7 linked regions of the Homo sapiens genome follow. The protein of the gene in region 7 purifies or fractionates together with the protein of the main gene of each other region. This does not show direct contact. Each region holds a gene or a part of one and is shown on either strand. Other genes may lie near its edges. The genes, in order: PIGO, TNPO3, GOLGA5, BTBD9, HSD17B6, PIGN and ATP2B2.

Region 1 (2,702 bases), on a different chromosome or scaffold from region 7:
TCTTTCTTTCTCTCAAACACATACAGCTCAGTGCCATTATATATTCACAATTTACTACTTCCATCACTGGAAAATCAAGAAATGTGCTCATGAGGATGCAGCATTTCCACAGGGAGTCTTAGAGGACTCCTTGTCTCTCCTCTCCATGAACCCTGGGAACCAACAGGAGGGATCAATTTGCTTGGCTATGGCAGGTAAGAGAGAGGACACCAAGAAGACCTTCCTAGTTGTGTGGGGCATGGGACCCTCTGTCAAGCTCAGGAACATGAGGAGCAACACCTCCTTGAAAACAAGAGGGGCCGAACTCACATCACTATTGTCTTTAAGTGAATCAGAGCTGAGATATTTACCAGGGGTGGTGACGGGTATCCCAGCAGCAAGCAGATGTAGGAGAAGGAAGCTCTGCAGAAACAGAAGCAGGAACACAAGGCTGATGCGCTCCGCATGCAACAGCAGAAGTGGGAAGGCCAACAGGGTGAGGGCTGTGACCATAGCAGCTGAGTAGACACTCCCCAACTGATAAGCAGCCACAGTCAGGGGACCCTGAGATTTGGTCCTCTCTAACCGGCCCCGGAACTCCTCCTGCATGTGTCGGTAGATTTGAGGGACCACATAATCCAAGTCAGCTTGAGAAGTGGGGGGGCCTGAGAAGGGAGTGAGGACAGTCCTGGTCCTTGGAGCGCCTGCCCCAGCCTTCACCAGCACTGTCACAGGCTTCCAGAGCAGCAGCGCGAGCCCTGAAGCAGCCAGCCCTGCTACAGCCCGAGGCAGCACCATGGATGCCCCAGAGACCAGGACCCGGAGACGGGGGGGAGCCTCATCTGCCCCCGACGCCAATGCCCAGTAGGCAGCAGTACCCAATGCCATTAGGGGCAGTCCCCAGCGCACAAAGAGCATGGGTGGCTCGGGGCTCTTGAGATTACCATAGCGGCGAAGCCACAAGCGCACGGCAGCTAACAGGGCCACCAGCGCCGCCACACAAGCTCCATACCACAAATTCTTGGCTCGACCACCCACCATGGATGCCAGAGGACTCAGCCAGGGAGAGGAGTGGCAAACAGGTGTCTCTTCAGGGCAACGATGAAAAAGCCCAGCTAGCCTTGTACATAAAAGCAACCCAATTCCAAGCCTCAGGGCATATGCACCATTGTGCCGTGGGGGGTTTGTTGTGGCTGAAGTGCCAAGGCGGGGCATTGTGAGTAGCTTAGGTGGAAGCAGCTGGCCCTCCCAGTGAAGCTGGACAACCAGGAGCAGGATGAATGAGCCCAAAAGGAAGGGGGTGGCCCTGGCCTCAGCTACAACAAAACTATCAGAGAAGAACACAGCCAAGCGAAACAGCAGGAGTAACAGGACGGGCCCAGGGATGGGAAACAGGGTTGCCAGGGGCCTCTTGGACCCCCAGCCAGCCCAGGCTTTCCACAGAAAAGGGAGGAATGAGCTCACTGCAGCCACAGCCCCTAGAAGCACTAGATCTAGCTTCAGCTCAATAGTTCCCAGGAGTCCAGCATACGCTATGGCCCCAACCAGGCCCCAGGCCACAGGTGTCAGGAGTAGAGGGCAGAATGGAAAGCCTGGGGATATTGCCCACTGAGATGCCAGCAGGCAGATAAAGCAGGAAGCAGCCAAGAGAGCAGTACCCCCCGCCATGCGGACCAGAGAGAAACGAGCCCAAGACTCGATGCACATGGCCCGAGCTCCCCGCAGGAACTGCTGCAGCTCAGCAATCACAGTCGGCAGTGTCGCCTCAGCCCCCTTGGGGCTCTGGAGAAGCCACTGGTAGTCAGCAGAGGCCTTGGAGAAGAGGTTCTGCAGCTGATGAAGCTCCTTAGCTTGAAGGTCCTGAGTAGCAGCTGAGTAGGTATGAAGAAATCGGGACACCTGGCAGAGAAAAGGTCAGAGGCCAAGGGGAACAGGTCAGAGACATAAATTGGGGCAGAGGCAAGAATAGGTATTACAAAAGGGGGTACCTGGAAGTCAAGGACCCAAACTCTGTCCAGAATCGGGGAAGGGAGGGATAACGGAAGAGGGATAGGTATGGAAGGTGGGACTAAGACTAGTCAAAGGACAAAAGAGTGGTTCATTATGCTTCTTTCATGCCCACCCTAGCTCTGTCACCTGGAAACCCAGCCCGCTTACCTACCTGCTGAGCATTGAGATGGAGAGCTGAGGCTTGGGCTAAAGCAGAGGAGTGGGGCTGGGAGTCCTCACCCCCTGAGAATAGCTCAGCCATCACTTCCCCGATATTCCCAAATGGGATGGGCAGGCCCAGCAGCAGGGCCAGCGTGGGCACAAGGCTAACTTGAGGAATCACCTCTGGCTCCTAAAGGAAAATGACAGTGGTCAACAGATTCATCACAAAGCTGAAGTCAATGTTTGGGATGGCAGACATAGGGGCCTAGGTAAGAAATGAGAGTGGAGGATACCCAGGATCATGGATTTGGGGGCCTAAAATAGAGGTATTCATGAGGATGCTGTAATGGTAACATGGGCTGATTACTGGGAGAACAGATGAGGAACATCCCAGGCCTCACCTCTGGTGGGGTGCTGGGGAAGACTGCTGTGGGGCTATACAGAAAGAGAGCAGCTGAGACCTCCAGCTCACTGTCCCCTCCATGGTCTCCATTTGTGGTCATCCCATGGTCCCCAGCCACTACCAGCAGTGTGTCATTCTCCAGACGCTCCACAAGTCCCCTGGGGGCCAA
Region 2 (3,500 bases), on a different chromosome or scaffold from region 7:
AGCTGGGACTACAGGTGTGTGCCACCACACCTGGCTAATTTTTTGTATTTTTTTTTTTTTTTTTTTTTTTTTGAGAGGGAGTCTCGCTCTGTCGCCGGGGCTGGAGTGCAGTGGCGCCATCTTGGCTCACTGCAAGCTCTGCATCCTGGGTTCATGCCATTCTCCTGCCTCAGCCTCCTCAGTAGCTGGGACTACAGGAACCTGACACCACGCCCGGCTAATTTTTTGTATTTTTAGTAGAGATGGGGTTTCACCGTGGTCTCGATCTCCTGACCTCGTGATCTACCGGCCTCAGCCTCCCAAAGTGCTGGGATTACAGGCGTGAGCCACCGCGCCCGGCCAATTTTTTGTATTTTTAGTAGAGACAGGGTTTCACTGTGTTAGCCAGGATGGTCTCGATCTCCTGACCTTGTGATCTGCCCACCTTGGCCTCCCAAAGTGCTGGGATTACAGGTGTGAGCCACCATGCCCAGCTCGAACACTGACTTTTTATAACTTGGTAATATAATGAGAATCTTTGAACCTACTATTCAATCTAAGAATACCTAATAAATAATTTGCATCTTTGTGCTCTCCCAAACCTGCTTATATACCTTTTTGTCCCACTGGAGATTTTAAATATCCTTTTAAAAAAATTATTCAAGGAAGACTAATACGCCCTTACTAAGTGTATTCAACCTCTCAACTGTACTCTCTTCACTAGAAACCCGGGAGGATTCCCTTCTTGGACCTTTTGGTCTGCTCTGATTTGCATCAGTTGTTCTTTAGATCTACTCCCTGTCATCTTGGGACTTGTCTTTACTGTGCTTTCTGGATTAGGTTAGCTGTTTCTCAAACCCCCTCAAATAACTTCTTCAGAAAAGATATAATGGAAAGTAAACTTGGAATTTTTGCATGCCTGAGAACTATTTTTATTTTGCTTTCGATCTTGATTGATGGCTCAGCTAGGTATTAAGTTGTAGGCTGAATATTATTTTCCTTCAAAATTTCAAAGGCCTTGCTCTCCTTTACTAGCATGCATCATTGTTAATGAAAAGTCAGAGAACTCTGAATTCTGCTCCTTACTATTACCTCCTCCTCTCTTCCCCTGAAATTTTACAGACCTTTGTTTAACTCTGGTATTCTGAAATTTCACAATGATGTGTTTAGGTATGTGTCTTTGATACTTGTTGAGCCCTTTCATTTTAGGTAGTACTTGAGTATCAGAAAAAGGATGGAAAAGATTTTTCACACACTAGAATAGGGTAGGGAACACATGGCTTTCCATTTGGAGGGGCTGGTGTGAACAAGAACATGGAGATTAGAAATGATACGACCATGACTTCGGGACAGAAAGGCTGATTTGCTTGACATATAAGGAAATAGAAATAAGATTGGGAAGATTGATGGATGTTGTCTCATGGAAGGCTATGACTTGACTGTTACACATTTAAAGTACATGTTCAGAAAGAGGCTATAATTGAAAGAAAGAAAGAGGCTCTAATTGTTTTCCTATTACATTTATCCATCACTATCTTCAAAGGATTGGTTCCAGGACCACCCACTACCCCTGCCCCTCTGTGCACAGTTTCCAAGAGATGCAGATGCCCAAGTCCCTTATATAAAATGGTGCAGTATTTGCATATAACCTATCCACATCTTCCCATATACTCTAAATCACCTGTAAATTACTTATAATACCTAATACAATGTAAATGCTATGTAAATAGTTGCTATAGGGTAATTTTTAAATTTGTGTTTTTCATTGTATTATTATTTACTTATATTTTGAATATTTTCTATCGATGGTTGATTGAACCCTAGGGTGTGCAGGGCCAACTGTAGATCACTCCTTAGTGATCATACTTCTTGCTTCCCTATTCCTGCTACCTCCCCAGCAACAGGATAAGACCTCGTCTAACCTACATGAAGCTGCTTCGGACTGTGTATGCTCAGCTCTCTATGCCATTGAGAATGTGGAGACTAACTTGCCATTAGCCATGCAACTTTTTCAGGGAGTGCTGACATTGGAGACTGCCTATCATATGGCCGTGGCACGTGAAGATTTAGACAAGTGAGTAATTGTTTAAGTCTGGAGCCCTGGGTTTACCTACAGTCTGGTCATTCTTTTAAGTCACTTTTTATTATTCGTCTGTCATTTGTGATTCTCAGTGATTCTGTAAAGTACAGATAGTGCTTCCTAAAGATGCTCTACTATGCTCTTCTGAACCTAGAGTGGCAAATTGGGTGCAGGGTTTGTAGAATTACCATAGAAAGGTAAGGCTTTAAAAGTTGGAGACAAATTTTAAAATATCAAGTGTGATTTGATGGGAGTTTTTATTCAAATGTTTTAATAATTGAGAATTTGAACTGACAAGTCACTTGCGTAGGAGTGTACGATCTAGGTAAAGGTGTCTGTCATGGGGATTGTGATACAGCATAGTAAATAATCACTAGATGTCCCTTAGACTGAGGAACCTTTTATTTATTTGATTAACTGTGCCTGTATATACTTATAATATCCAGATTTCTGACTCATTGTTCTCATTCCCCTGTCTTCTACAGAGTTCTGAATTACTGCCGTATTTTCACTGAACTATGTGAAACTTTTCTTGAAAAAATTGTTTGTACTCCAGGCCAAGGTCTTGGGGACCTTCGAACTCTGGAGCTGCTGCTTATCTGTGCAGGCCATCCTCAATATGAGGTAGTGTTTATGCTATTCAAAGGCCATTATTCTCCAAGTTGTGTGCTGCATATTATCTATATTTCATTACCTCGTGCCCAAATTTTTATTGTTGAGAAATTACAGTCTTGTTTTTAATTAATGTGATTTCATCTGTTTTGGAATTTTTTAAAAAAATTATATTTGGGTTTCTGCATTGTGTCCATTTCTGTTTTCTTACCTGGTTGGCTGGGCTGTTGTAGGCCCCTCAAGGAACTCGTTAGAAAGCAAGCCTTTCCAATGAACCCCTTGTCTAGCTTGACTTATTCTCTAGAGTGTTACAGCTAAAAAACACCAAATTCTAACTATACCTCCACAAGTCTTAACACCCCCAATTTTTCTCCAAATGATGGATGAGAATGACAAAGGGATTGAAAGGACTTAAGGGTCTCTGTCATTCAGAATCCTTGACATCCTACTTACCGAGGTTTGCTAGATTTTTTAAAATCTCATTTATTTGAGAAGTTTTACCTCTTTATAGTATAAGAAATGAGAAAGGGTCGGGGTTGGTGGCTCACACCTGTAATCCCAGCATTTTGGGAGGCCGAGGTGGGCAGATCACCTGAGGTCAGGAGTTTGAGACCAGCCTGGCCAACATGGTGAAACCCTGTCTCCACTAAAAATATAAAAATTAGTCAGGCGTGGTGGCTCACACCTGTAATATCCCAGCTACTTGGGAGGCTGAGGCAGGAGAATTGCTTGAACCTGGGAGGCAGAGGTTGTAGTGAGCTGAGATCGGGCCACTGCACTCCAGCCTGGGAGACGAGCGAAACTCCGTCTCAAAAAAAAAAAAAAAAGT
Region 3 (3,500 bases), on a different chromosome or scaffold from region 7:
AATTTGTGGGGAGTGCTGTAAGGGATTTATAAGAAAGAAAGGCAGGTGGAGCCTAGATAAGAGAAGGGGATTGAGTTTCCAAACAGAGGAAACGTGGCCGGCATAGCGGAGGCTGGAGGAGAGTAGAGGGAGATGGAGACAGATAAGACCAGATGGAAGATGGAATGAAGGAAGTCGTTAAGTATCAACTTTCAGCCAGAGTCTCCTAGGACAACTATCATTTACTGTCCCTAAATACCATGTGCAACGGGTGCTGTCATCTTCACTAACAGATGAGGAAACAGATTCAGAGAAGTATAGCAATTAACCTGAAGTCAAATAGCTTGAAAATTGCAGAGCAGAGATGAAAACCTCAGAGTGTGATCTTTGCACTGCACCGTAACTGTTGAATGACGGAGGCTTTTGAATCCCTGTTGAAAAGTGTGGATTGTGTCCTCTAAACCCATGCTTTGAAATACTTTGACCATGACGCCTCAGTGAGAAAAACAGTTTACATCGTGTCTCAGTACTGACATGCACTTACATGTACCAAACTGAAACAGGAGTTTCACAAAATTATACTTTTATATATACTATATGTTACATAAATATCAGAATATGTCCCATTCTATTACATTTTCTAAAATGCTGATTTTGACCCACCAAATTGATTTCATGACCCCAGTTTTTGAAAATCACTTTTGTAGACATTGAGTCAGTATAGAGTTTTGAGAAATCAATGAATGCCACAATTTACCTATGAAAATGTAGTAGTGTGATTTCTGTATTGTATGACTTTCATTTTATGTAAGAATTTTGTGAACACTTTCTCTTTCAGCTTACCAATAAAACTTTAAGCAATAGCAGTCAGTCTGAGTTAGAAAATCGACTCCATCAGCTAACAGAGACTCTCATCCAGAAACAGACCATGCTGGAGAGTCTCAGCACAGAAAAGAACTCCCTGGTCTTTCAACTGGAGCGCCTCGAACAGCAGATGAACTCCGCCTCTGGAAGTAGTAGTAATGGGTCTTCGATTAATATGTCTGGAATTGACAATGGTGAAGGTAATCAAAAAAGGAATCTCAAAAGAACATTTCATTCAAACATGCTTTTGAAAAGTTATAGAAGGACTATTTTTATTTGAAAGAAACTTCATCCAGTGAAGGACTCAATTTTCTGATATGAGACCTGGGCCACGTACTGTTTAGTATTGTTAGTGAACCGGATAATGGACTAATTAATATTCCTCACCAGTATTAGACTTGGGGAAAGTAGTCTGAGGATTGATAATTATATTGTAATGTCTGAGACACTTAACAAGATGATGCTGACAAGGCGAGGAATTCAGTAGAGAGGAGCTTTCAGGACACTTGAAACAAGATTTGCTTTAATAATCTTCCAGTAAATAGTTACGGGTATTAGAGCTAATACATAGTTCACATAACCATATCTAAAGAAATCTATAGATTCCCAACATATGTAATTAAAAAATAATGTGTAAGATAGTATAAGCATCAACAGATCAGATTTTTAATCTTGGAACTTCGTAAAGTCTACAAATTGTCATTCAGCAAATTTCTCAGTTCTTTGGCTTTAAATTATTTCTTTTAATAAAAAAAATTGTTTAAGAGACGCTGGGTGCCAGGTATGGGGATGGCACTGTAATTTAAAAAGGGTGATCAGGAAGACCTCGTTGAAAAGTGTCACTTCTTTTTTTTTTTTAATGTATAATTATCATTTTATTTGTAATTGTTAATTACAAGTAAAAATGAAATTATAAATAAGTAAATCATACTCCTTAATGGCATAAATAAAAAGTGCCTCGCTTAAATTAATAAAATTTTCCTGACCATAACTTCTGTGATTTTTTTAAGGGTTTTCAGTTTCTTTTAGGTTTCACCTTTTTTTTTTTATTTTATTTTTTTATTATTATTATACTTTAAGTTTTAGGGTACATGTGCACAATGTGCAGGTTAGTTACATATGTATACATGTGCCATGCTGGTGTGCTGCACCCATTAACTCGTCATTTAGCATTAGGTCTATCTCCTAATACTATCCCTCCTCCCCCCTCCCCCAGCCCCACAACAGTCCCCAGAGTGTGATGTTCCCCTTCCTGTGTCCATGTGTTCTCATTGTTCAATTCCCACCTATGAGTGAGAACATACGGTGAAAAGTGTCACTTCTTTAAAGTCCCAAAGGAGGTAAGATAGTGAACAATGAGGAGGCATAGAAAAAAAGTGTTCCAGGCAGAAAGAAGAGCAGGCACAAAGGCCTTGAGGCAGGCATGTTCCTGGCATATTTCAGGAACAGCAAGGAGGCCAAGGCCTCTGGAGTAGACTGAGTGAAGAAGACACTTGTGTAAGATGAATCCAGAGAGCTTAGAATAGGCCGTTGAGGCCTGTATGGGGACTTTTACTCTGAATGAGGTAGGAAGCCATTGAAGGATCTTGAGAGGGGGGACTGATCTGACTTGCACCTTAATAGGCTGCCTCTGACTGCCATGTCAAGAATAGACTGCACAGGGCTAAAAGTGGAAGCAGGGAGACAGGGCAAGAGGAGGCCGGAGGTGGGTGGGTAGCCATTGCATTAATCCATGTGAGAGATGGTAGTCTAGAACTGAGTGGGATTGTGAAGGTGGACTGAGAATTTATTTTAAAGGTAAGCTGACAGAATATGTTGGCAGATGAGATACGGAGTTTGAGAGAAAGAAGTCAAGAGTTTTGGCCTGAGCAGATGGAAGGATTGGAATTGTGATGTCCTGAGACAGGGAAATGGCAGCTGAGGCAGGTTGACAGCGAGGACAAGAACTCTGAATTGTAGTGTTAGGCAGGCTTTGGGGTGCCCGTTAGATATCTGGATGGAAGCGAATAGGCAGTTGGATGAGTCTGGCAGGGGATGAAGCCTCTGGGCTGGAGTACACATTTGGGAGTCCTCTGCTTCATAGAAAGACCACCCGGCCTCACTCCTCCTCACATAGGAACAAAGGGCCCATTAATATTGACTCTTGTCAACGCTTAGTATTTGTAAATTTCTTAATTTTTGCTAAAATCATTTTCTTATTTAAAACTTTTTTCTTGTTGTGGATATGGATGTTTAAATATTTATGTCATCAAATTTACCTGTCCTTTCTTTATAGTTTCATCTACTTTGGGGTGATGCTTAGAAAGTTGCCCTTGAAAATTCCTTCCACATGTAATACAGTGTATTTCCAATTATAATTGTCTTAGTTAATTTTTATGTCAGTACACTAATTTATTTTCTTATTTAAACAGGCACTCGTCTGCGAAATGTTCCTGTTCTTTTTAATGACACAGAAACTAATCTGGCAGGAATGTACGGAAAAGTTCGCAAAGCTGCTAGTTCAATTGATCAGTTTAGGTAAGCAATGCCAGTAGGGATGAGTGATGGACCATCAGCTGTTTTTACGTTTTTCAGGGTTTCAATCACAGTGACTCCCATCAGGCAGAGTCTATATTTAAAGTGACTTACTCCTTTCAAGATATTTTATACTTATATAC
Region 4 (3,500 bases), on a different chromosome or scaffold from region 7:
GAACTTCAGAAGAAGTGGCTTGGTATGGTTGAGGGAGATTTCATGGAGGTTATGAAGCTTGAGTTGAGCCTTGACATTTGATTTGAATAGTATAAGAGTTGGGTGAATTTCAGATGGGAAGAATCATGAGGTTAATAGACAGAGGTTAGAGCATTTGAAGAGACCATAAATAGAAGAGCTTGATTAGAGTAGAAGGCTTTTATTGATTAATAGCAAAGAAACTATGTGAAGGTCAGCTTAGGCCAGTTTATGGAAGTCTTGGAAACTAGATTGGAATCTCCCTTACATGCAGTGAGGAACCAATTTGAGAGAGGGAGAGTGGCATGCATGCAGTGGTGGTTTTGAAAGACTGATCCATAGTGCTGTATTTGAGTATTTAGAATAGGGGAAAACTGATTCAGAGAGACCAGTGAGGAGAGTATTTAATCTGTGCACAATTGATACTACCTCAAACCAGATTGGTGGCAGGGAAAATGGAAAATAATGGATGATTAGAACGGATACAATGGAAAAAAATAGATCTTGATGATTCAAGGGATATAAATGTGGGGATTAAGTTTAGGAGAAAGTTACCATTTGTTATCAAATCTAAGAAGCCAGAAATTCTCAGGCACCATTATTTTATGTTCCACTAAGAAAAGAAACAATACTGCCAATTAACTGTGACACACTATGATGTCTACACTGCGATTTCAGAAATTTAAAAATTTGAACACTAGGTATGTCTGTAATGAAATACAGTACAGTACTTCTTTGAAGAAGATGCTGAGCTTGATTTTTAGATTGAGTTTGAGGGTTTTGGGGTTGCAAGTTGTAACTTCTGTCCCAAACTAGTCATTTCCCTGAGTTATCTCTTCTTGACTATGCCTTTAAACATTCTCTTGAAATACTGATTGATCTTAAATAGATGTTCTTAACAGAATTCTCTCCTGACTTATCAGGTCTAGATTTCTTTTCACTGGGCATAGGAGAAGAAACATAGGTTTTGGCCCAGACAAATTTGACTTCAAATCCTGAATTAGTCACTTACTAGTTGTACAATCTGGTATTAAATTATTTAAGGAATTTTACCTTTTATATCTCCTAGCATTGTTATGAGACTTAATTAAAATAATGTGTGCAAGCTCAATATAGGAAACCATTGTTACCATATATCATTATGATGTGTTTTTTTTTCTGTGTATATCTGTGTGAGAATTACCACCTTGATCACATTGTTTTAAACATTTTTGTTTACTTGTCTTTGATCCTTGAAGGCAGAGATGATCTTTATAGGCCTTATTGATCTCTATATCCTCAACATTTAACACACCAAATAGCATATAATGGGTAATTGGTGAATGCTTGGTGAATGCTTAGTGAATGAATGCAGGGAGAAATGTCTAATAGGAAATAGGAACACATTACTCTTTAGGACCAGTCAAAGCTGGTGATAAAAGAGTTGAAACCTGAGCTGCTAGAGTATAGAAAAAGAAGTAAAAAACAAAGTCTGAAACTTGGAGAAAACCTATTGCCAGGGGACTTAAGGTAGAGAAGGAAGAAGGAAGACATTTGGGATAGAATAGAGTTACAGAGGACAACCGGAGGAGAGAGCTTTCCTATGGATCCAATGGTCAATGGTAGCTCACGATAGGGAGGTCAAGAAAATTGAGAGACAACTTTTGGATATAAATTGTGATTAGTTGATAAGTAATCTGGACAGAAGATTGGCTGCCAGGGAATTAGGCCATGGATGTTTGAAAAGATAATAGAGATAACATATTGTCTGTCTGATTTGTGAATTGGATTGTAAGGTAGTAAAAAAATAGTATGGTAGCTAGAGAGATCAGGTTGGGAGAGGTCCAGGAAGAAATCAGAGGTGCTAGAGAATGGTACTAGTTAAGTGTCAGCCTTGGATAAAGTGTGGGAGGATGGCAAGTGAAGAGGTAGTAAGATGAGTAATTAGTGTTAGGCTTTTCAAATTATCATGTCGGATCCTGTCTTATATAAGTTCCTTTCCCTCTCTTGCCCTGCATTTGATTTGAAGTGCTGAAAAGGCCCTAGAACTGGATTCATTATAGGGATAATCTTGGGACATGTTTGCAGGAGTGAGGATTTGTTTTGGACATTTCACATGGTTACTGGTAGTTTGGAATTGATCAACTGGTCAGTATAAGGGTAGTACCTGGGTTACAAGAAACTCAGGAGATGAGTTGCGAAAGGGAGAACTTAGCCAGTTGAGTCACTCAGTTCTGGAATGACACATACACAGATTGTTGTTCATCAATGTTAAATTCTTCACTTTGAAGTGAATGAGGGGGAGCTCAAGGAAGAGACTATGTAAATGTTTGGGAATCCTTTATCTAACTTCTGAACTTGAGTAATGATTAAGTAAGTCTGTTTTTCCTGACTTTTAAAGCATGTGAATAATAAAATCAATAATATAAATACAAGGAAGCATTACACTTCCCTGTCAGACCCTGAAAAGATAGGTTTTTTTAATTCAATCATCTTTATTAATCTATCAGTCTTACATTTTATACATGACATCTAGTCGTATTCTAAAAGGGCTCTACTTTTAGTACATCATGTTAATAGCAGAAAGCCAAGTAAGATGACTAAACCTTACACTAGCATTTTAATATCCTCTGGACAAGGGAAGCTAGGTCAATCACTTTACATACATGTAAGAGTAGTGTTCCAAAATAACTAAGAAGTTGCTATATTTTTAAGCAGGGAGGAAAGAACTTTGATTTTGGTCTTTGTGTTCCAGCAAATTATACTTTCAATTAACAGCAACAAAGATATAACAAATGCTCTGCTTTTAAAATTTGTGAACTTCATTACAGATTAAAACAGTACTGGAGTCTTTTGGGAGGCCAATAGCTAGCAGCTACATTAATTGGTGTAGATAAGCCTCGTTATCGATAACCAGGTCCAGGTTTGGTATAGCCCTGACCAAAGGGAGGACATATAAGGATTAGGCCCAGTTGGAGGAGGGGTCATGCTACTTACAGGAAGTGAAGTAAAACTTGATCTTGGTCTATAGGCCCCAGGTTGGCTTGGAGCCATTCTAGGTTGAGAGGCAGGGGCCACAGTATAATTAGTAGGCTGAAAAGTTTGGGTAGTATAAATTTGTGCAGGATAATTGCTTGCCTGGTACTGTGTGGCAGCTGAGCAGGCAGTTGTTGAGGCTGACCAAAAAGGCAGGAGCTGGTGCCTGGGTAGTTGGTTGCTGGCCATATCCTTGGAACTGCTGAGGTTGTTTGGAGTCCAGTCTGCTGACTCTGGCTTTTTGAATACTGAATACCATACTGTTGAGGCTGCTGAGGTAGAGCCCGCAGACACGGTGCACCATAGCTAGCCTGTTGCTGGTACTATTGATACAGCTGACTTTCAGTCTGACCTGCTTGTATCTTAGCTTCTGTATATGGTGGTTGCTGTGGCTGAACTCCTGGTGGGTGAGCTGCTACTGAGGAGGAGGCGGCAATGCTGTCAGATGTTCCTGAACAGTCTTCTGC
Region 5 (3,500 bases), on a different chromosome or scaffold from region 7:
CCACCTCCCTCCCGGAGGGGGTGGCTGCCGGGCGGAGACGCTCCTCACTTCCCAGACGGGGTGGCAGCCAGGTGGAGGGGCTCCTCACTTCTCAAACGGGGCGGTTGCCAGGCGGAGGGTCTCCTCACTTCTCAGACGGGGCAGCCGGGCAGAGATGCTCCTCACCTCCCAGACGGGGTCGCGGCTGGGCCGAGGCGCTCCTCACATCCCAGACGGGGTGGCGGGGCAGAGGCGCTCCCCACATCTCAGACGATGGGCAGCCGGGCAGAGACGCTCCTCACTTCCTAGATGGGATGGCGGCCGGGAAGAGGTGCTCCTCACTTCCTAGATGGGATGGCGGCTGGGCAGAGACGCTCCTCACTTTCCAGACTGGGCAGCCAGGCAGAGGGGCTCCTCACATCCCAGATGATGGGTGGCCAGGCAGAGACGCTCCTCACTTCCCAGACGGGGTGGCAGCCGGGCAGAGGCTGCAATCTCGGCATTTTGGGAGGCCAAGGCAGGCGGCTGGGAGGTGGAGGTTGTAGCGAGCCGAGATCACGCCACTGCACTCCAGCCTGGGCACCATTGAGCACTGAGTGAACGAGACTCCGTCTGCAATCCCGGCACCTTGGGAGGCCAAGGCTGGCGGATCACTCGCGGTTAGGAGCTGGAGACCGGCCCGGCCAACACAGTGAAACCCCGTCTCCACCAAAAAAATACGAAAACCAGTCAGGCATGGTGGTGCATGCCTGCAATCGCAGGCACTTGGCAGGCTGAGGCAGGAGAATCAGGCAGGGAGGTTGCAGTGAGCCGAGATGGCAGCAGTACAGTCCAGCTTCCGCTCGGCATCAGAGGGAGACCATGGAAAGAGAGGGAGAGGGAGACCGTGGGGAGAGGGAGACGAGGGAGAGGGAGAGGGAGAGGGAGATTTCTTTATTCTTTAAAATATTCAGTAAAGGTATTTTATAATCTTTTTTGTTTTGCTTTTCCTTCCTGAAAGCATTGAAATGGTGGTGGTCTTTAATCATAACTTGTGGGGTTTTATTTCAGGCGTGAGATTCAACATTTTGGGGTGAAAATCAGCATAGTTGAACCTGGCTACTTCAGAACGGGAATGACAAACATGACACAGTCCTTAGAGCGAATGAAGCAAAGTTGGAAAGAAGCCCCCAAGCATATTAAGGAGACCTATGGACAGCAGTATTTTGATGCCCGTAAGCTTTTTTCTTTTGATAGGGATAATGGGTACCCTGTATTAGTCCATTCTCATGCTGCTATGAAGAAATAACTGAGACTGGGTAATTTATAAAGAAAAGAGGTTTAATTGACTCACAGTTCTGCATGGCTGGGGAGTCCTCAGGAAACTTATAATCATGGCAGAAGGCACCTCTTCACAGGATGGCAGGAGAGGGAATGAGTGCAAGCAGAGGAAAGCCCCTTATGAAACCATCAGATCTTGTGAGAACTCACTACTAAAAGAACAGCATATGGGAACCACCCCCATGATTCAGTACCTCCCACCAGGTCCCTCCCACGACATGTGGAGATTATGGGACTATAATTCAAGATGAGTTGGGTGGGGACACAAAGCCAAACCATATCAGTACCCTTGCATGAGAAGGGGAAAAGAGGGTTGGTGGACAATGATTGGCAGATCCTCTCAGGACAAAGCTCCTTAAATAAAGCATTCCCAGAACAGAAGGAAGTCAGGAAGGTCCCAGTGGTCTCATGGTTGGCTTGGTCTGATGACTATCATGGTTGAGGAGGGGGACATATAGGCGGCCTGGGGCCAGGCTCTTCCCTGCCTTGTCCTCTGTGGGCCAGGGCACCTGAGCACTAGGAGGTATTACATACTTAGAGGCATGGACCCTTGAGAGGGTGTGCCCCTTGGTAGCATTGCAGGGCTGGTGTGAGATGTCTGCTCAACTAAAGTGCAGTCTTCATCATTGTTTACCTTTTGATAACAAAGGGCTTGTCCACAAACTATGTGTCTTAATGTGACAGGAGAAAGCATGTAGGTGGGAAGAGGTAAGTCAGTGAGGATAAGTCTTTGCAGAGCCCTATGGGCCATTCCCTGAGGCTATATTTCTCTTGTTCAGGTGATAGGAGCTTTGTGGGAGTGGGATTTGTCAATTTCCTATAAGAATATTATTCTGAAGACCTGGAGGAGGAGGTAGCAGCAGCGGTGAAAAATGGGAATGACTTCTAATAGGTACAGGGTTTCTTTTTGGGATGATGAAAATGTTCTAAATGTAGATTGTGATGATGATTGCACAACTCTGAATATACTAAAAATTATTGATTTGTACACTTTAAATGGCTGAATTTTATGATATATGAATATCTCAATAATGTTAAAAAAATTTCCAGTTGAAAAAGTATATTCCCATATCTGTGTTGTTCTAAACCTATTTAAAAATCCTCTAGTAACAGAATTAAGTTGTGTGTTTTTTTTTTTTTTTTTTGAGACAGAGTCTCGCTCTGTCACCCAGGCTGGAGTGCAGTGGCGTGATCTTGGCTCACTGCAACCTCTGCCTCCCGGGTTCAAGCAATTCTCTTGTCTCAGCTTCCTGAGTAACTGGGACTACAGGCATGCACCACCAAGCCTGGCTAATTTTTGTATTTTTAGTAGACATGGGGTTTCACCATGTTGGCCATGCCGGTCTCGAACTCCTGACCCCAAATTATCCACCCACCTCGGCCTCCCAAAGTGCTGGGATTACAGGCATGAGCCACTGCACCCAGCCATCAGAATTGAGTTTTGAGGCCAGGCGTGGTGCCTCACACCTATAATTCCAGCACTTTGGGAGGCTGATGTGGGAGGATCGCTTGAGCCCAGGAATTCAAGACCAGCCTGGGCAACATAGTGAGACCTTGTGTCTACAAAAAATAAACAAAATTAGCTGGGCATGGGGATGCGAACCTGTAGTCCCAGCTATGTGGGAAGCTGAGGAGGGAGGATCACGAGCCTGGGAGGCAGAGGTTGCAGTGAGCTGAGATTGTACCACTACACTCCAACCTGGGTGACAGAGCAAGACCCTGTCTCAAAAGAAACCCCAAAAAACAACCAAACAAAAAAAGAAAAATGATTGAGTTTTAAAATTAAAATTAAATAAAATCCAAAATTTAGTTTTTATTCCAGTGCATTAGCTATTGTTTAAGTGCTCAATAGCTACATGTGGCTAGTGGCTATCATATTGGGATGCACATTCTAGATCATTCTATTTTGTAGAAATTAGATGTGGTGAGACTTCTGTGACTGCATGATCTTAAAAATATAAGGAATAAGATTGTTGACCACCATTTCTTTTTTTGTATACAGTTTACAATATCATGAAGGAAGGGCTGTTGAATTGTAGCACAAACCTGAACCTGGTCACTGACTGCATGGAACATGCTCTGACATCGGTGCATCCGCGAACTCGATATTCAGCTGGCTGGGATGCTAAATTTTTCTTCATCCCTCTATCTTATTTACCTACATCACTGGCAGACTACATTTTGACTAGATCTTGGCCCAA
Region 6 (3,500 bases), on a different chromosome or scaffold from region 7:
TGAAATGATCAATCTTTCTGCTCCCACTTAAAAGCATTTAATGACATGAAATTCATCCAACTGATTTTAGAAAATAATATAAATGAATTTTCTAATTAAGAGATGTCCCAATATTTGCAGAATCATGCATATAAACAATAAATCTAAATGCTACATTCAGTATATTAAATATCAATTTAAATAAATTATATGTTAAATGCCATATATATCAAATGCCAGAATATATGGCATCTTCGATGTATTAAAACAGGAATTATAACTATATATTTTAACACTTAAATATTTTTTTTGAGATAGGGTGTTGCTCTGTTGCCCAGGCTGGAGTGCAGTGGCATAATCATGGCTCACTGCAGCCTCAACATCCCAGGCTCTCAAGCACTCTTCCCACCTCAGCCACCTGAGTAGTTGGGACTACAGGCACATGCCACCACACTCAGCTAATTTTTTGTTTGTTGTAGAGATGTGGGTCTCACCTTGTTGCCCAGACTGGTCTCCAACTCCTGAGCTCAAGTGATCCACCTGCCTCAGCCTCCCAAAATGCTGAGATTACAGGTGTGAGCCACTGTGCCCAGCCAATGTTTAAATCTTTATATGAGTAGCTACTAACTTTTAAAATAATTTACCAAAGTATAATGAACCACACCTCAACATCATCATTTATAATCAAGTTATGTGAAAAGTGCTATGCTAAATATTTCACATGAATTACATAATTTAATTATAAAAATAAATCTATGAGACAGAAACTAATATTATCACATTTTATGAAAAGGAAATTGAAGCTCAGAGAGGTTATATAAATTGCTCAAGATTATATAGCTGTTAAGCGATAGTGCTATATACCACTTAATTGAATCCAAAATACTATCTAACTGTATGATGTGCCAATATCTCAAGTATAACTAAGAAGGAAAAAAAAATACTGTAATTAAACATCCCTATTTCAGAAATGTTAAAAATGTAAAAATATGTGTAAAAATCAACACATACATTACATACATAAAAATAGAAAACTACCATATTGACTTACTCCCTATTTACTATCTGAGGAAACATAATCAGTGACTCTTACCTTTGGCAAACATAGGCAGGATATCTGGGCTTCCCCAGCTCCATGTGTATTTACTTTCATTAAAAAGAGAATCAAACTCTACAGGATTTTCCTTCCATCCTTCAGAAAGCAAGCAAGCAGTAATAGTTATATACACATGGTACAATAAGCCCCTAAAGAACTATTCTTCAAATAATAACAATTACATTAGTCAGTGAATAAATGCAAAACTAATAGATTTTATATTATGCATATTATACCACTATTTAAAAAAAAACTAACAATAGATAATTTACTTCTTAATGAAATATAAAATTATTTTTGAACTTTCAAGAGTAATATCTAGGAAAATTATGCTTCCATCCAACCCAAATTCTTTCAATAACACAGGATAATGAAATACTAAAGTTTCAATTCTGGAGTCAGTACCAGTGGGTATTCATGTCAGCAAAGCATGCTAAAACATTTGTCCAAAATATCTCAAAACATACCTTCACTTTGTGACATGATTAAGTGGTAAAGGACTAATATTTACTTGACAAATTTTTCATTTCATAAGATTGTCCAAATAGACAATACCTTTGGCAACTGCACTGACATCTTCATAAAACCCAGCTATCAGAGCTACATGACCTGGCCGAGATTCTGTTGGCACACGTGTATGAGATATGCCCCAGCTGCCTTCATGCATTATGATATTCCTAAAAGATATTAAAGACAAATAGTTAACACAGACTATGATTAGATACTCTCACATAAAGCTTTAGAAACATAAGATTATTACAGAAGGAATCAAAAGCAAAAAACTTAAGTCAAAACTTAAGAAGGAAAGGAATTTTTCAAATTCCAGGTGAGCCCATTCCTAGCATCTACCAGCTGAATGCAGCAGCATGAATTTGCTGATGTAAGACCAAACAAAGAACCATTCAACCACTGCACAGAATCATGAAACAAAATACATGATTGTTGTTTTAAGCCACAAAACAGAGATGGTTTGTTATCCAGAGATAAAACATATATTATTATATCAATGTTAAATTGCATTAGGTGTGATAATAGTATTGTGGTTATTTAAGAGATATAGGCTGAAGTGTTTGGGGTAAAGTTTCTTGCTTTCGAATTGTTAAGGAAAAAATAATTATAACTAGATGGACATACATGGGTACCCCTGTGGTGCAGGTGGCAGAGGGGCCAGGAGAGGGTGAACGCAATTATGAAAAAAGGTTAAAATTGTCATACTAGGTAAAGGGTATACAGATGTTCATCAAATAATCCTTTCAAATTTGTTTAGTTGAAAAATTCTTAAAAAACTAAGGGGAGGGAAAATGGCTACACTCCTAATTAGGAGTTAAATTATATCCCCAAATTTGAGATTAAAACAGGCAAAAAGATTATTTTGCTAAAAGATGTCAACATTATTTAAGTTGTATCCACAGTGATTTGCAAAATTTGGGGAAGAAAGCAAAACTACAAGTGGTGCTATTATAGGTGAAAGGCCAGCAGAGCAATAAGTTATAAAATAGTAAACTCAACAATAACATTTTTCAAGATAAATATCTGCCTCTCAATACATTCTAAAGAAAAATATTTATAACTACTGGTGTCAGTTCTTTTACTATTGACTTACCTAATAATAAAAGCAGTTTTGGTGAAATACATTCATAATAAGTAAACAGTTTCAAAACCACTGGACCAAATATTAACGAGAAATATTCTTTAACTTCTTGAGTTATATAATGAAAACTGGACTTAAACAGAAAGGGGAGGTATAAAGAAATGTGGATACTCTATTTAAAAGCATTAGTTTAGATACTGTATTTAAAAACATTAGTTTAGATCACGTTTTTATAAAACAAATTTTGGGCCAGATGCGGTGGCTCACGCCTGTAATCCCAGCACTTTGGGAAGCTGAGGCAGGTGGAGGTCAGGAGTTCGAAACCAGCCTGGTCAACATGGTGAAACCCCGTCTCTACCAAAGGTACAAAAATTAGCCGGGCGTGGTGGCACGTGCCTGTAATCCCAGCTACTCAGGAGGCTGAGGCAGGAGAATCGCTTGAACCTGGGAGGCAGATGTTGCAGTGAGCCAAGATTGCACCATTGCACTCCAGCCTGGGCGACAGAGTGAGACTCCCTCTCAAAACAAATAACAACAACAAAAAACCTTTCAAAAACAGGCTTAGAAGAAGCTAGAAGATTCCTGACATTGTAAATATACAATGGCACACAACACAAAACATCAACTGTTTGAGCCCACAGAGCTTCCGTTAGTAAGATCCAAAGGAGAAACAAGTGCCACCAGAAAAGCTTGACTTTATTTTACCAGTATATTTTTATCCTCTTAATTTTGAAATGAAGTATATTTCTCTCTTTCCTTTGGCAACTAAGAAATTCACCCAAATACTTTAATTATTTCTAGAAATTTGTTACAGATTTTTGTGTACTGTACTTA
Region 7 (3,500 bases):
GGGAAGCTGATGTCTCCACTCAGCTCAGAATTTCCTTCCCCTGAGGTCATGGGGCAGACTCAGGCCTCTGAGAGGGCAGAGAAGTGCCTAGAAACAGCCCTGGGTCCCAGTGCCAGGTCTCGCTTAATTTTATTGCTACTCCCTGAGTGCAGGAGTGGCCCAGGCCACATACTCTTCACCACACTGACCCCATTTTGTAGATAAGGAAACTGAGGCTCTGGAAGCTCTAAATACTGTGGTGGTGAGGCTGAGTCTTGGTCCTGGAAGTTATTCATGGCCTAGCCCCCAGGCAGGGCACCCGCAGTCGTATACCACCTTCTACCTGGGGCTGCCTCCGCCTCCCAGCAGGAGTTGTTTCTGGAGCTGATTCATCTCTGAGCTCAGCAAGGAGCCCGACAAACAGCCTGGTCCACACCAAATACTTAGCTAATACTGGTTTTATTGATTTGCATTCTATGCCCTCTTCAGGATGCTCTGAGCTCAGAAATCTGAAATTGGCTGGGGGTGGGATGGGGAGAAGGGCTTCATTTTAATCTGAAGTGAGTCATGTAAGTTGATAAATTTAGAAGTGGCCTAAAGAGCTCTTAATCTGCTGCCTTCAGATAGTTGCTAGGAAGAGACTGGCACCCAGCAACCTTTGCATCCCAAATCCACATAACAGAGTGGACACTGTTGGTGCCCACCCTAGTCCTCCTTACCGGTCTGCAGCTTCCACACCCCAGCTGCTGGGAGCTAGAGCTCCCGGCTGCCCCTTCTTTGCAGGCTTGCCCTGGGAAGAACAGGAGCTCCTGCCCGGGCAATTGCACACAGCATCCCACTCAGAAGGCAGCCGTGGCCAATAACTATCTGATATGGGGTATGAAAGGCCAGCTTTTTTGCTTCAAGGCAGAGCCAAACCTGGGGCGCAGTTCATGCCCCACATCCCCCAAGGGATCAGCTGAGGCCACACGCTTGTTTATCTCTTTCTCTCCCTACCTTGTTTCCTTTCAGCCCCTTTCTCCTGAGCGCTGTCTCATGCTTGCTCCTAGTGAGTCCAACCCAAGATCCACACACATTGCACTCCACACGCAGACACTAGCTCCACCCCTCCAACCCCGCCCCTTCCCCCGTGACCTGGACATCAGCAATGTCCAGGCAGCTTCGAATTTTAGACATTTAAAGTCTCAGGGGGCCCATCTGGCTCCAAAAGGCTTGTTTCAAAGATGGGAAACTGATGCTCAGAAAGAGACTGTGACTTGTCCAAGGTCACTTGAAGTGCTTGTCATGGCTGGCTGCACCCAGGTCTTTGTCCTCCCCCCAACTCCAATCCACTTTGTGGCCCTAGCCTGTCTGGTGGCTGGACCAACGGGCCAGCCACGGCTTTTGCTGTCTCCAGGAGGGAATTTTGCTGTGTCAACTCTGCAGAAGCCACTTGGAGGCCAGGAGAGTGCTGGCTGGTGGGCTTGCAGGATGGTTGGCAGGCTCTGCTGACCTTGGGCAGCTGTGGGCAGGGTGGGCATCCCAGTTAGGCCCCTTCCACTGTTTGTGGTGGTCAGGCAGAAAATTGAGGGAAGACAGAAACGACTTCTAATGAGGGCCCTAATTACCCTGTGGATCCCTGAAGCACTGGTGATGTATCTGCTGGTGGCTTCTTCTAGAAACCCTCCTCTCCATGGCAAGAACTGCTTTCTCCATAAGAGAAAGAGTCCTGAACCAACATGGGCAAAGAGGCAGCATTGGGCTGGTGCCTGGACATTGGGCTGTGGTTCCAGTCTGCTGGGAGCTGGCTGTGTGATCCTGGGCAAACCAGCATGCCTCTTGGCCCTTGGTTTTCTCAGCTATAAAGCAAGTGCAGCCTCAACTGCTATTATTTTATTGAGCCTAGTGTTTATTTTAGTATCATTTATTGAACTAGAAGAGACTCATTAAAGTTCATCAAATAATAATTGCTTACACTTCTGCCAAGGGCTGTCCTAAGCACTTTAATTTTACTTAATCCTCACAACAATCCTATGAATTGGACACTTTTGTTATCCCCATTTTACAGATGGTGGGACTAAGGCACAGAGAAATTAAGAAACTTGTGCTGGGTCACACAGCATGGAAATGGTGGAGCAGGAATTAGAATCCCAGAGTCTATGCTTTAAATTCCTCCTTGTACTACGGTCTTTGCTGTTTGTTTTGCACGGCCATTTATTAAGCACCTACTGCATATGGGGACTCTGCTGGTCACGTAATACACACAAAAGTTTGCCGACTTCTCACAGCTGCTCCGGCAAGCAGGTGTTCTTTTGCTGATTGTTTCAGAGTGGACACAAAGGACCCAGTGAGGGACTCACCGCAACTGAGCTGGGGAGGCAGGTGGCAATCCTGGCTTCTTCCCACCAGCCTGGTGGCTCTGTTCTGAGCCCCTTATAAAACTGATCTTATTTATCATATTTTCTTGACTCTAACCTGTATCACTACTTTACGTATATTTAAGAAATAAAAGGCATGGCTGGTTCCACTGTGGTGTAACACCAGTTGTCAGGCACAACCTGGCTTCAGAAATGTCAAAATGTATATCTTGGAATCCGCACAGTTCAGTCTCCGACACAACGGCCTGATGAGGCAGGCAGTGTTGTCATCTCCATTTGACAGTGGAGGGAACGGAGGCTTGGAGATTAAGGACATGCAGCTGGTCAGCGGCCAGGCATTGGATGTGACCCCAAGCAGCCTGGGCCCAGATGTTGTCCTCAACTACTGCGCTACATCAACGCTAAGTCAGGCCCACGTAGGATGGCGTGCCCTGCCCATGGGCACAGATCAAAAAACTTCAGAAGGATCAGTGAGCTGGAGGCCAGCACCCTCTGCTCCGGATGAGCCTGGGGGCCTCACTCAGCGTGGATGCCTCAGGCATGCAGGAGGCACCCCAAATGGCTGCCACAGCATTCCCCGCCCACTGCCTCCACAGCTCCCTTGGGCCTGCAAGGCAGGTGTTTGACAGAGCTGGGCTAGAATGAGTTCATCCAGATGACGCCCCCATGGCTCCCACAAAATGGTCCCGGGGCAGCCAGACATGGCCCGGTAGAGTAGCCCAGCCGGCACAGGAAAGGCACCACTTTATAGGAAACTGCCTTCAGAGGCAGCACAGAAGCTTGCAGAGACCTGCTTTCTTCCTTCAAAGCTACATGGTGCTTGGACCCCAAACGGTGTCATCCATTCACTGCTTCTCCCATAGGCTCCACCAATCCCATATGCTCCACTATGGCACGACTGCTCCCAATTTTCCCAAATCAAATCCACCCTCCTTGGACTAGGATGTGCCCCTTCTGGGGACATCTTTAAGATGCCCACAAGCAGGGCAGAAGCTCAACATATTTCGAATGCCTGGCATGATGAGGGTTCCATTTGAGACATTACCTACCCATCATCTCGTGGCACAATCTTGTGAGGCAGGTTTTTCCCACTCCACTTTGCATATCAGGATGTCAAGCTCAGAGAAGCAAAGCTACCTGCCCAAGGTCACACAGTAGTAAACA

Evidence for each region.
Region 1: the proteins of ATP2B2 (region 7) and PIGO purify together in Homo sapiens (affinity purification with mass spectrometry; 2 studies listed by BioGRID and IntAct, with this or other methods). This does not show direct contact.
Region 2: the proteins of ATP2B2 (region 7) and TNPO3 purify together in Homo sapiens (affinity purification with mass spectrometry; 2 studies listed by BioGRID and IntAct, with this or other methods). This does not show direct contact.
Region 3: the proteins of ATP2B2 (region 7) and GOLGA5 purify together in Homo sapiens (affinity purification with mass spectrometry; 2 studies listed by BioGRID and IntAct, with this or other methods). This does not show direct contact.
Region 4: the proteins of ATP2B2 (region 7) and BTBD9 purify together in Homo sapiens (affinity purification with mass spectrometry; 2 studies listed by BioGRID and IntAct, with this or other methods). This does not show direct contact.
Region 5: the proteins of ATP2B2 (region 7) and HSD17B6 purify together in Homo sapiens (affinity purification with mass spectrometry; 3 studies listed by BioGRID and IntAct, with this or other methods). This does not show direct contact.
Region 6: the proteins of ATP2B2 (region 7) and PIGN purify together in Homo sapiens (affinity purification with mass spectrometry; 2 studies listed by BioGRID and IntAct, with this or other methods). This does not show direct contact.

Annotation. Positions count from the first base shown.
Region 1 is NC_000009.12:35,090,890-35,093,591, forward strand, and holds part of PIGO (GPI ethanolamine phosphate transferase 3, catalytic subunit), read right to left. Parts: intron 2,692-2,702; coding exon 2,532-2,691; intron 2,321-2,531; coding exon 2,141-2,320; intron 1,879-2,140; coding exon 351-1,878; intron 1-350.
Region 2 is NC_000007.14:128,999,612-129,003,111, reverse strand, and holds part of TNPO3 (transportin-3), read left to right. Parts: intron 1-1,877; coding exon 1,878-2,053; intron 2,054-2,544; coding exon 2,545-2,683; intron 2,684-3,500. UniProt on the Homo sapiens protein: Importin, which transports target proteins into the nucleus. Specifically mediates the nuclear import of splicing factor serine/arginine (SR) proteins, such as RBM4, SFRS1 and SFRS2, by recognizing phosphorylated SR domains.
Region 3 is NC_000014.9:92,832,305-92,835,804, forward strand, and holds part of GOLGA5 (golgin subfamily A member 5), read left to right. Parts: intron 1-817; coding exon 818-1,043; intron 1,044-3,254; coding exon 3,255-3,360; intron 3,361-3,500. UniProt on the Homo sapiens protein: Involved in maintaining Golgi structure. Stimulates the formation of Golgi stacks and ribbons. Involved in intra-Golgi retrograde transport.
Region 4 is NC_000006.12:38,587,930-38,591,429, reverse strand, and holds part of BTBD9 (BTB/POZ domain-containing protein 9), read left to right. Parts: intron 1-3,500.
Region 5 is NC_000012.12:56,783,824-56,787,323, forward strand, and holds part of HSD17B6 (17-beta-hydroxysteroid dehydrogenase type 6 precursor), read left to right. Parts: intron 1-1,029; coding exon 1,030-1,193; intron 1,194-2,078; coding exon of another isoform or gene 2,079-2,122; exon of another isoform or gene 2,123-2,191; intron 2,192-3,301; coding exon 3,302-3,500. UniProt on the Homo sapiens protein: NAD-dependent oxidoreductase with broad substrate specificity that shows both oxidative and reductive activity (in vitro). Has 17-beta-hydroxysteroid dehydrogenase activity towards various steroids (in vitro).
Region 6 is NC_000018.10:62,156,057-62,159,556, forward strand, and holds part of PIGN (GPI ethanolamine phosphate transferase 1), read right to left. Parts: intron 1,753-3,500; coding exon 1,631-1,752; intron 1,172-1,630; coding exon 1,073-1,171; intron 1-1,072.
Region 7 is NC_000003.12:10,495,587-10,499,086, forward strand, and holds part of ATP2B2 (plasma membrane calcium-transporting ATPase 2), read right to left. Parts: intron 1-3,500. UniProt on the Homo sapiens protein: ATP-driven Ca(2+) ion pump involved in the maintenance of basal intracellular Ca(2+) levels in specialized cells of cerebellar circuit and vestibular and cochlear systems.